2 separate regions of the Homo sapiens genome follow, and region 2 is linked to region 1. Evidence: fine-mapped expression QTL. A gene starts in region 1. The other region holds a variant in brackets. All regions are shown on one strand. Distances are from middle to middle.

Region 1 (5,362 bases):
AGCGACAGAACAGCTCTCAGGGGACCCGAAGTGAGTAGCTCCTTCCGCAGGCAGGTCGTCCCGAGTGCCTAGTTCTCAGCGGAGAGGAGACCCGGAGTAAGTAGCTCCTTCCCACAGGCAGGTGATCCCCACAAATTGAGGGGATCCCAAGTGGGTAGATCCTTCCCACAGCTGGTAGTCCTGACATCTCTGTGAGTATAGCTGAGTGGGATTTTTATGGGCTTCAGAAGGGAGAAAGTGTATACTGATTGGCCCATGGGCAGCCATGGACGGGCCCAGAAAAAGCACCATAAATCTCATTCTGGACGGCAGACTCCACCCAGAACTGGCAGCCCAGCCCCCATGTTTCAGGAAGTCCCTAGCTTTAATGGGGGTCTTCACTGGACACCCACCCCTTTCCACCCAGGAGCCTGTGTGCCTCCTACTGCCATCAATCATGTCATCTACAGGACCCAGGCTGTTCAGGTCAAGGGTCGCCTACAGGACTGGGCTGAGCCGCCCTCAGCCCCTCCTTGGCCTTGCTCCCATGCTTGTGAGCACTCAAAGTCCAGAGCGGGCCGAGGCAGCAAGGGGCTGGCATGCTAGCACTGCCCTCAGTGTGTGCACACCTGGCTGGGTTGCAACAGCGCCTGGGCTTGGCTTCAGCTTTGTCGGGAGTCAGGAGAGGCCAGGTAGCAGCTGGAGGCACTTCTGAGCTTTCGGGGGCAGGTGGGGTGGCTTCCCAGCCCTGGGATTGCAGGGATACCTGGGTCCACAGCCGTGGCTGGGCAGATGCAGCTGCTCCCAGGAGGGTGGGGCTCCTGTCCTGCCAACTTGGAAGGGGGCAGGGCTCCCACATGCTCAGTGGAGCACAGAGTCCCAGCTGAGCCTCCCCTGCTGTAGCCAGCATCTTCCCAGCAGCCACTCAAGAGAGGCTGCCACTGCCATCAATGGTATAACTGACATTTCACAATCAATAGCTTCTGCTGGTAACTTCACAAAAACCTGACCTAAGAGATCTTTAGTACCTATTGGTTAAATAAGGTATTAAATAAGTATGTCAATACTATATGCTGTATGTGGGTAAATTCCTCTGGAACACTGAGATCCATTTACACACAGAAAGAAAACAGGCACATGGTTACAAGTCTCGTGTAATTTCTATGGCCATTTTATTTATTCAATTGGCTTCCTTTAATCTCTATTTTTCTATTTTTGTTTTCTAATTTTTTTCTTTTTAATTGCTTTCCTTTAAGCCTAGGTTCATGGGTCAAAACCAATATGCAAACTGGGATAGTCATATTATTATTGATTTTACCTTGTATTTTCCCCTTTTAAACTTATTCATTGCCATATTTTGCAAAAGGACAATTTCTTTTTTTTTATTTTTTTGAGATGGAATCTCACTCTGTTGCCAGGGTGAACTGCATAGGCACAATCTCAGCTCATAGCAACCTCCGCCTCCTGGGTTTAGGTGATTCTCCTGCCTCAGCCTCCTGAGTAGCTGGGACTACAAGTGCGCACCACTACATCCGGCTAACTTTTGTATTTGTAGTGGAGACAGGGTTTCACCATGTCGGCCAGGATGGTCTCGATCTCTTGACCTCGTGTTCCACCCGCCTCGGCCTCCCAAAGTGCTGGGATTACGGACGTGAGCCACCGCGCCCGGCTACAAGTACAATTTCTAACAGAATAATGCTGACACAGCACTTTGAGATGATAGAAAGACTACAGAAGTGACAAAAGTTGAAGTTAATAATGGACTCCAGGTTAGACTTAGCCTGAGAGCCACACCCTTCAAACCTCCTTTGATGCTCAAATATGGTAAAAAAGGGTTTTGACAATGACTCCCAGCAGCCACTCTCTCCAGTGTGGGACCAGACCAGCTATCTGGGACAAGTTCATCCCAGCACGGGGACTATCAAAACCTAATTACAGGATGACTCATTAGTGATGCATTTGGAGAAAGATCTCAATCAAAAGGGGAAAATACCCAAGTTGTCAAATAAAAGTGGACTCACTTATGTTTAAAAAATACCTTGACAAAGACAGCTGGGAAAGGCCATGGAGAATTCTCATGAATCAATAATAAGAAAAACTATCACAAGATTCTGCAAAAACCACAACCTTGCACTAAGGCAATCTTACACAAAAAATACTTCAGCAAGGACAGCTGCCCAGCAACTGCCTGTCCAACCCTGGAACGGGAGTACACTTGTTTTTTTTTTTTTTTAGACGGAGTCTGGCTCTGTCGCCCAGGCTGGAGGGCAGTGGCGCGATCTCGGCTCACTACAAGCTCCGCCTCCCGGGTTCACGCCATTCTCCTGCCTCAGCCTCCCGAGTAGCTGGGACTACAGGCGCCCGCCACCACGCCCGGCTAATTTTTTGTATTTTTAGTAGAGACGGGGTTTCACCGGGTTAGGCAGGACGGTCTGGATCTCCCGACCTCGTGATCCGCCCGCCTCGGCCTCCCAAAGTGCTGGGATTACAGGCGTGAGCCACCGCGCCCGGCCGGGAGTACACTTGTTACTGTTCTTTGTAGCCAAGGTTAATTATTTCCAAACCATTATCTTCCTCTTCATTTTTTCTTTAAAAACCATTACTTTCCTGAATGCGCAAATCGTTTACTATGGCACGCATATTCGCCAACGCCCTATTCCCAAATAAATATCATTTTCAGTTAGCCTGTTATTAGGTTGACAATCATTATCACTCCCTCTCCCGTCCGTGGCGCTCCCACGGCAAAACATCAGCCCACTGTCCACCGCGAGGCTGCATCCAGGCAGACAGGCATAGCTGGGGAATGACACACTCGCGTTGACTGGATTTACTGTAACTGGACCCAAATCTCAGACCAGCCGGCGGCCTCTCCAAGGAAGCCCGAGGCGAGGAAGATCCTAGTCGACGTGCACTCCCAACCAGGTCTGTCACAGGTCGGCCCTCGCATTTAAACGTTAAATGTTGAAGGGCTTTCATAAAAGAGCGATGTGCTCCTGCTTGTATGAGCCGGGGCCGGAGGCCGGTAACAGCGGCACGGGACGGGAGCGAGCCTCAGAATGCGGGAATGTCTGTGGGCCTCCGGGACAGTGGAGGGAGCGGGTCTAGTGAAGCGCGACGACTCTGGGGTGGCAGAAGTGAGGACTATGGGCCCCACGGGGACCGAGGGAACGCACAAAATCGTCCCAAGAGACGAAACGCCGGGCCGCGGAAGGGCCCTCAATGCTATCTCCGGCAAGCGCGGCGTTTCGCATCGCTCCCAAAGGCGGCGGCGACACCTTATGACGTCCTGTTGTTCCGCACGTCGTCGCGTCACACTAGGCGCCGGCGCGGGGTGCTGATGTCAGGACGCCGCCGCTTGGCGCCGTGACGCTCAGCCGGGCCTTGTGGAGTGCGGGTCTCTGCTGCGGACGCCGGGGGCCGGCGCGGCGTTGGCCGCCCCCGGCCTCGCCGAGTGCAGCGCGCCCGAAGGCCAGTGCCTGCGCTCCGTCCGCGGCCCGGCGCCCAGGGTGGGCGGGGAGGCCGCCGCGCAGTCGCCGCACGCTACACCGCCGGCGCCGTCGTTTCGCGTCGCCCGCTTCCGGCCACCGCGGCCGCCATTTTGTTCGCGCGGAAGCGCCGCGGTAGGGTGGGAACCCAAGCGGGAGAGCCGCGGGATTTGCGGCCGCCGCCATGCCGTCGTCCCCGCTGCGGGTGGCGGTGGTGTGCTCGAGCAACCAGAACCGGAGCATGGAGGCGCACAACATCCTCAGGTAGTTGGGCTCCACCCTGTCCCCGCGCGCTCTGCTCCGGCGACCGGCCCTCCCTCCTCCCCGGTTCCCCCTGGCCCGCGCCAGGACCCCTGAGAGGAAGCCGGGCCGGGCCGCGCTCGTGGGTCGGCTGGTTGGGATGGCAGCTGGACGGCAGCGCGCGTAGTCCACACGCGGGTGGGCATCACAGGGAAGGCAGGTTCCGGGACGAGGCGCCCGCTGTCCGGTGGTCCTTCGAGCTCTCCGAGGCCGGGCCCGGGGGGCGAGGGTAGCGTCCGCGGCGAGGGGCTGCGCGGCGGCGGCCGATCATGGTATTTCGTGTGCGTCGTTGGCCACCTTCCCTGGAAACGGCGCGCAACACAATCACGGCATACCACGATGTTGTAAATAACAAAGCGGTCTCTTTTTTTAATGCCATGGATTTGTGTGTTTGCTACTTCTTCTTCTTTTTTTTTTTTTGCGAAAGATCCTCTCTTCCTCCCTGGAACGCCTCCAACCGGTAGTTTCTGGAATACAACGTGGACTTGGTTTGGCTCTGCTAGTTTATATTCCCTGCTAACTGGCCGCCTGTGACTCTTGCGTAGCGTATGTCTAATGAAAGTTTATTCCTGCTTGATAACAAGTTTTTTGTTCAGTCACATAGCAAACTGAGAAACTGACCACTTGACTTACAGTTAAAATTTGGTATGTGTCAACTTTGATAGTAAGAAAGTTGAAATGGCTTTTTTACCTCCAAAGTTACCTACGTGAACTTTAAATGAAAACAGTGTTTCGCTTCTCTTCTCGCAGTCCAGCTATAACTTTCCTGAGCAACTTGGGAAAATTAACAGTCCCCCTTTTTTTTCCGTTTTTAACAGTGTCACGTGGGCCAGGCACGGTGGCTCACGCGTGTAGTCCCCGCACTTTGGGAGGCCGACGCACGCGGATCACCTGAAGTCAGGAGTTGGAGACCAAAAAACACCCCCCAAAAATCAGTGTCAAGTGTTCATGATCTGCTGATTCTTTCTCTTTATTCTTTTCTTTCTTTTTTTTTTTTTTTTTTTTTTTTTTTGAGACAGAGTCTTGCTCTGTCGCCCAAACTGGAGTGCAGTAGCGCGATCTCGGCTCACTGCAACTTGTGCCTCCCGAGATCGAGCTATTCTCCTGCCTCAGCCTCCCGAGTAGCTGGGACTACAGGCACCGGCCACCAGGCACGGCTAATTTTTTTTTTTTTTTGTATTTTTAGTAGAGACGGAGTTTCATCATCTTAGCCAGGATGGTCTTGATCTTATGACCTCGTGATCTGCCCGCTCGGCCTCCCAAAGTGCTGGGATTACAGGCGTGAGCCACTGCGCCCGGCTTTTTTTGTATTTTTAGTAGAGACGGAGCTTCACCATGCTGGCCAGGCTAATCTCAAACTCCTGACCTCAGGTGATCTGCCCGCCTCGGCCTCCCAAAGTGCTGGGATTACAGGCGTCAGCCACCGCATCCGGCCAAAGGTTGTTTTTAAAACTAGAAATGTGCTAGAATTACATTGTGCTGGATCTTCATTTATAAACTGCAGTTACCTGTAAAAATTTGATACATTTAAGCAAAACAATGCAAGGCTCACCCCCCCCCCCCCAAGACAAAATTATTGTTAATTGGAATAACAAATG
Region 2 (5,362 bases), 23 kb before region 1:
CACCTACTCAGTGCACCGGGTGGGCTTTTTGGATTCCCTTTGTCCAGCCCTGACCTCCCCACAGCCATCGGGAGGGCCCCCCAGAGCGCATCTGGAGGAGGAGGGGGCGCAATGAGGCAGGGAAGGTCGGCGCCCTGCAGCTGCCTCCGCTGCGTGTGGAGCGAAGGGAGTTCTCACCTTGCGAAGTCTCATCTGTCAGGCTTTCCTCCGGGTGGGCGCTGTCCGTCCTGAAAGGAACAGAAGCCGCGGGGTGAAGGAAAGTCTCCGTGCTGGTCCCCACCCCATCGGTATGGGCAGGTACCCTGACTGCGCGGGTCCCCGCCGCGGGTCCAGGGCGGCCAGCGTTGGGGTGCAAGGCCCGGGGTCCTGCGCGTGCCAGACCGCTGCGCCCCCATCGTAAAGCACGAAGTCCCCGACTGGTGTGGCCACGGGCGGTCGCGGAGCTGCACGACGCGAAACGAAGCCGGCCACAGCCCGTGAGTTTCGGCTCGGAAAAGCCGCAGGGGTCCAAGGTGCGCTCACTAGGCGGGAAGCCGGGAGAGCGGCGGCCCTGCCCGCACCCCGCGCCCCTGCCCGCACCCCAGCCCCACCGGCACTCCGGCCGCCTCGCTGCGTCCCCCTCCTCCCCCCCACCCCCGATCCCCCGCACCCGTAGGCCGCGGCCCGGCGAGGGTTAAGGGGGGCGGGGCGAGGGGCGGCCCCGCCTCCGCCGCCGCGCCGGGTCCGAGCGCGCACGGGGCGCGGGGGCGGGTCGGAGCGGGCGGCGGCGGAGGGCGCGGCGCGCCGGGGATCGCGGGGAGCGGGCAGCGGGGACGGCGGCGGCGCGGCCCGCGTGACCCAGCGCCGCGCCCCGTGGCCCCGCCGCAGGATGCGCGCCCCGCCGCTGCTGCTGCTGCTGGCCGCCTGCGCGCCGCCGCCCTGCGCCGCGGCCGCCCCGACGCCGCCGGGCTGGGAGCCGACCCCCGACGCGCCCTGGTGCCCCTACAAGGTGCTGCCCGAGGGCCCCGAGGCGGGCGGCGGGCGCCTGTGCTTCCGCAGCCCCGCGCGCGGCTTCCGCTGCCAGGCTCCGGGCTGCGTGCTGCACGCCCCGGCCGGCCGCTCCCTGCGCGCCAGCGTCCTGCGCAACCGCAGCGTCCTCCTGCAGTGGCGCCTGGCCCCGGCCGCCGCGCGCCGCGTGCGCGCCTTCGCGCTCAACTGCTCGTGGCGCGGCGCCTACACGCGCTTCCCGTGCGAGCGCGTGCTCCTCGGGGCCTCCTGCCGCGACTACCTGCTGCCCGACGTGCACGACAGCGTCCTCTACCGCCTGTGCCTGCAGCCGCTGCCGCTGCGCGCTGGGCCCGCCGCCGCCGCGCCAGAGACCCCCGAGCCGGCCGAGTGCGTGGAGTTCACCGCCGAGCCGGCCGGCATGCAGGACATCGTGGTGGCCATGACGGCGGTGGGCGGCTCCATCTGCGTCATGCTGGTGGTCATCTGCCTGCTGGTGGCCTACATCACCGAGAACCTCATGCGCCCGGCCCTCGCGCGCCCCGGCCTGCGCAGACACCCCTGAAGCGCGAGGCCGCCCGCCCATCTTTGCGCCACCTGCCTGAGGGCGCCTGAGCTCCCAGGTCCTCCGCCCGCTCTCCTCTCCTCATTCCTGCTGCCTCCTTAAGATCCCCGCGGAGGAGGACCTGCCGGCGACGGCTCCGGCACTTTGGCATCATCACACGCCCTTTCCAGCCGGGCGTCAGACTCCCAGACTCTGGCCCCGGATTGGCCCCTGGGCTTGCGCTGCTGTGCCAGCCGCATCCAGGGCTCTCCCCGCTCTCCGCAGGCCTTTATAGAGGCGGCCAGGGCATGGAGCCCCTTCCAGCAAGAGCCATGGGCACTCCGGCTCACCCCGCACCTCCATCCTGTGCCGAATTGTCCCAGACAGACCGTCGCCATTGCTCGGTCACTGTGCTTTGCAGGCCTGGGGCGCAGCTCTCCAAGCCTGTCCTGCCCCGCCCCACCCCACTGGGCTTAGGTTAGCTTCGTGCCTTAGTATCTCGGGCCCACTGCAGGAGCCAACACCCTCTGCTGTCCAGGGGGGGTCTGTGGCCCTAAGATTGGCCGGCCTCTCCATGCATCTGGCCAGCGTCCCCTTGGAGACACCTTCACCCTCAAGCGCTGCAGAAGCATGAGGTGAGGGCCTGCAGCGCTCTGTACCGTTTAGGGTGTTGGACCAGCCGGGAGCCTGGCAGGCCTGGCCCAGCGGCCAGGGTGAGTGTTCTCAGACCCCGGGCAGCTGGTGGTTCTCCAGGGCCAGGTACCCCTTTTGTGTGTGCGACCTCTGACTAGGTCCCTGTGGGAATGGGGCAGATGGCGGCCATCACCACTGGGTCCCAGGGCAGAAGCTTAGATACCGGCCTTGAGCAGCCCGACCTTCCACCGCTGCCTGGATCCCAAGCCTCAGCCGACCCAGGGGACCTTGGTGGCAACGGTGTGACTGACAGCACCACCCCTAGCCTTTGCATGCCCAGGGGTCGAGAGCCAGTATCCGGCCCAGACAATGCCACCCGCCATGGAAGAAAAGCTGACCCTGCCCACCTGCTGCAGACCCGGGCCCCGGGCCGAGGTTGCTTTCTGTGACGACCGCCTGGTGACGCTGGACACCAGGAGGGTTATGGCACTGCCCTCCCCTCCTGGAGCCCCTGGCACTGACCACCTGGACTTGACCTGACTCCTGGTCACTGGCCAAACACCCATCCTCACCCCAGCCACCCCGGGCCCTGGCTGGTGCCGTGTGACACCTGTAGCCCACCT[G/C]TGTGTCTTTGCTCCGCCCACCCCTGCGTGGCGCCGGTCAGGCGCAAACCTGGCGCCAGTGTCTAAATGTCCATCATTCTCAGACCAACAGAGCTGTCTGTGTGTTATTTGGGAGGTGGGAGGGAAGGAAAAGGTGGATTCCCCTTCTCCCCACATCCCCTGGGACCCTTGGGTATGGGCTGGTGTCTGGCCCCAAACCCTCTCCTGGCCTGGGTGGCATTGGCCCAGGCAGCGTGTGCGGCACGCTGCCTTGCAGTTCCTAGCAGGACAGGCAGGGTGCCCCCTGTTTGTCTCTGCACCTTCTTGTCCTGGGCCAGCTGTGTTGGCGGGGGAAGGGGAAGACGGTACCTGCCGTGCTTAGAAATAGCCCATTCCCACGGCGACACACTTGAGCTGTGACAGTGGCAATTAGGCTGCTCCGGAGGGGCTCACCTCCCTGCCTGGGCCTCCCTGGCAGAGCTAGAGCTGGGGTGGGGACGGTGGGCAGAGGACAGCCTGGGGCTCCTGTGTGTATCCTGTGCTGAATGCCACCCTCCCTCCCCCACAGGCTCTTCCAGGCTGTCCTTGAGGCACTTGCAGCCAGGGGTGACCCTGAGGAAGCAAAAACAGGCGGGGGGGGGGGGGGCGGAGGGGGAGGGGGAGGAGGAGCCCAGCTCTGAGGAGTGACTCATCCCTAGAGGGGGTGTGCAGCGATGTGTGTAGACAGCCTGGTGGGAGTGGGGGGCTTCCCGTTCCAGCCACCTTCTGCCCTGGTCACCTGCAAGGGTGTTTCCATGTCTTCTACCAGCAAAGGCAGCGTCCAGGGAGCTGGGGCAGCACGGCTCCTTGGGGAGCAGCCGGGAAGTTTCGGAGGCTCCCTGGCCTGCGGTGGGATTCCGGCTTGTTTGTGAGCTTAGGCTCACACGGGCTATAGCCACAGGCCTGTCCTGCCAGTTCTGGGGGCTTCTCAGAGGCATGGAGTCCAGCTGAGGGTTTGCAGAAGTGGCTTGAGCAGCCTGCAAGGCCCAGGGGACAAGCCTTGGCCTGGGAGTGGGCGTCCCTGCCAGGGAGGGGCGTCTGCATCTGAGCTCGTGGTCACTGGCACAGACTGCTCGTTCCCTAGCTGGCCACCTTCCCGGCTGGCCCCATTATCCTCCCAGGGGCATGGGGACCCCCAACCCCTCCTTCTGACCTGGTGCACCTTCCAGTCCCGCCCCGAAGTTTCTTTCCTTCTGCTCTACCTGGAGGAGCCTCCCCTCCCTCTCTCTGTCTCTCTCCATTCTCTCCCTCTCCTTCCCATGTATCTCTCTGTCTCTGTCTCTGGCTCTCTCTCTCTCTCTCTGTTTCTCTCTCTCTGTTTCTCTGTCTCTCTTCATCTCTCTCTCTCCCTATCTCTCTGTCCCTGTCTCCATCTCCCTCCATCTCTCTCTGCCTCTCTGTCTCCATCTCTCTGCCTCTCTCTGTATCTGTCTCTGTCTCTCTCCATCTCTCTCTGTCCCTATCTCTCTGCCTCTTTCCCTCTCTCTGTGTCTGTCTCTGTCTCCATCTCTTTGTCTCTCTGCCTCTCTATCTGCCTCTCTCTCTCCATCTCTCTCTGCCTCTCTCTGTCTCTGTCTCTCTATCTGCCTCTCTCTCTCCATCTCTCTCTGCCTCACTCTGTCTCTGTCTCTGCCTCTCTCCATCTCTGTCTCTGCCTCTCTTTCTGTCTCTCTCCATGTCTCTCTGTCCCTCTCTGTGTCTTTCTCTATCTCTGTCTTTGTCTCTCTGTCTCTGTCTGTCTCTGTCTCTCTGTCTCTCCCCGCCCTGCTCTCTCTCTCCGTCTCTGTCTGCCTCTCTCTGTCTCTGTCTCTGTCTCTGTGTCTCTCCCCATTCTGCTCTCTCTGTGTCTGTCTGTCTCTCTCTCTGTCTCTGTTTGCCTCTCTGTCTCTGTGTCTCTCTCTGTCTCTCCCTGTTCTGCTCTCTCTGTCTGTCTGTCTCTCTGTCTGCCTCTCTCTGTCTCTGTCTCTGTTTCTCTCTGTCTCTCTGTCTCTCCCCGTTCTGCTCTCTCTGTGTCTGTCTGTCTCTCTCTGTCTCTGTCTGCCTCTCTCTGTGTCTGTCTCTCTCGCTCTCTGTCTCTGTTTCTCCCTGTTCTGCTCTCTCTGTGTCTGTCTCTCTCTCTCTCTCTGTCTGCCTCTCTCTGTCTCTCTCTCTCTCTGTCTCTCCCTGTTCTGCTCTGTGTCTGTCTCTCTCTCTGTCTCTGTCTGCCTCTCTCTGTCTCTCTCTCTCTGTCTCTCCCTGTTCTGCTCTGTGTCTGTCTGTCTCTCTCTCTGTCTCTGTCTGCCTCTCTCTGTCTCTGTCTCTGTCTCTGTGTCTCTCCCCATTCTGCTCTCTCTGTCTGTCTCTCTGTCTCTGTTTGCCTCTCTGTCTCTGTGTCTCTCTGTCTCTCCCTGTTCTGCTCTCTCTGTCTGTCTGTCTGTCTCTCTGTCTGCCTCTCTCTGTCTCTGTCTCTGTTTCTCTCTGTCTCTCTGTCTCTCCCCGTTCTGCTCTCTCTGTGTCTGTCTGTTTGTCTCTCTCTGTCTCTGTCTGCCTCTCTCTGTGTCTGTCTCTCTCGCTCTCTGTC

What was found. PIP is the estimated chance that this variant, and not a neighbour inherited with it, causes the effect.
Region 2: its variant is fine-mapped to the expression of SSU72 in whole blood (TOPMed, PIP above 0.99).

The regions. Positions count from the first base shown.
Region 1 is chr1:1,572,844-1,578,205 of GRCh38, reverse strand. It overlaps SSU72 (SSU72 homolog, RNA polymerase II CTD phosphatase), which reads left to right and starts at 3,343. Exons shown (of 5, transcript NM_014188.3): 1 at 3,343-3,728. The coding sequence starts at 3,649. It overlaps SSU72-AS1 (SSU72 antisense RNA 1), which reads right to left and starts at 3,259. Exons shown (of 1, transcript NR_197593.1): 1 at 1,135-3,259. RefSeq lists enhancers at 610-1,152, 3,070-3,139, 3,150-3,259 and silencers at 1,551-1,720, 3,380-3,539, 3,780-3,859.
Region 2 is chr1:1,595,522-1,600,883 of GRCh38, reverse strand. FNDC10 (fibronectin type III domain containing 10) reads left to right here and starts at 749. Exons shown (of 1, transcript NM_001242659.2): 1 at 749-2,872. The coding sequence starts at 869. The coding sequence ends at 1,549. LOC105378586 (a long non-coding RNA gene) reads right to left here and starts at 1,451. Exons shown (of 3, transcript NR_147951.1): 1 at 1,268-1,451; 2 at 178-227. RefSeq lists enhancers at 1-275, 276-935, 936-1,595, 1,596-2,254 and silencers at 673-722, 1,023-1,142, 3,371-3,420. The variant G/C (reference allele first, on the strand shown) is at 2,785.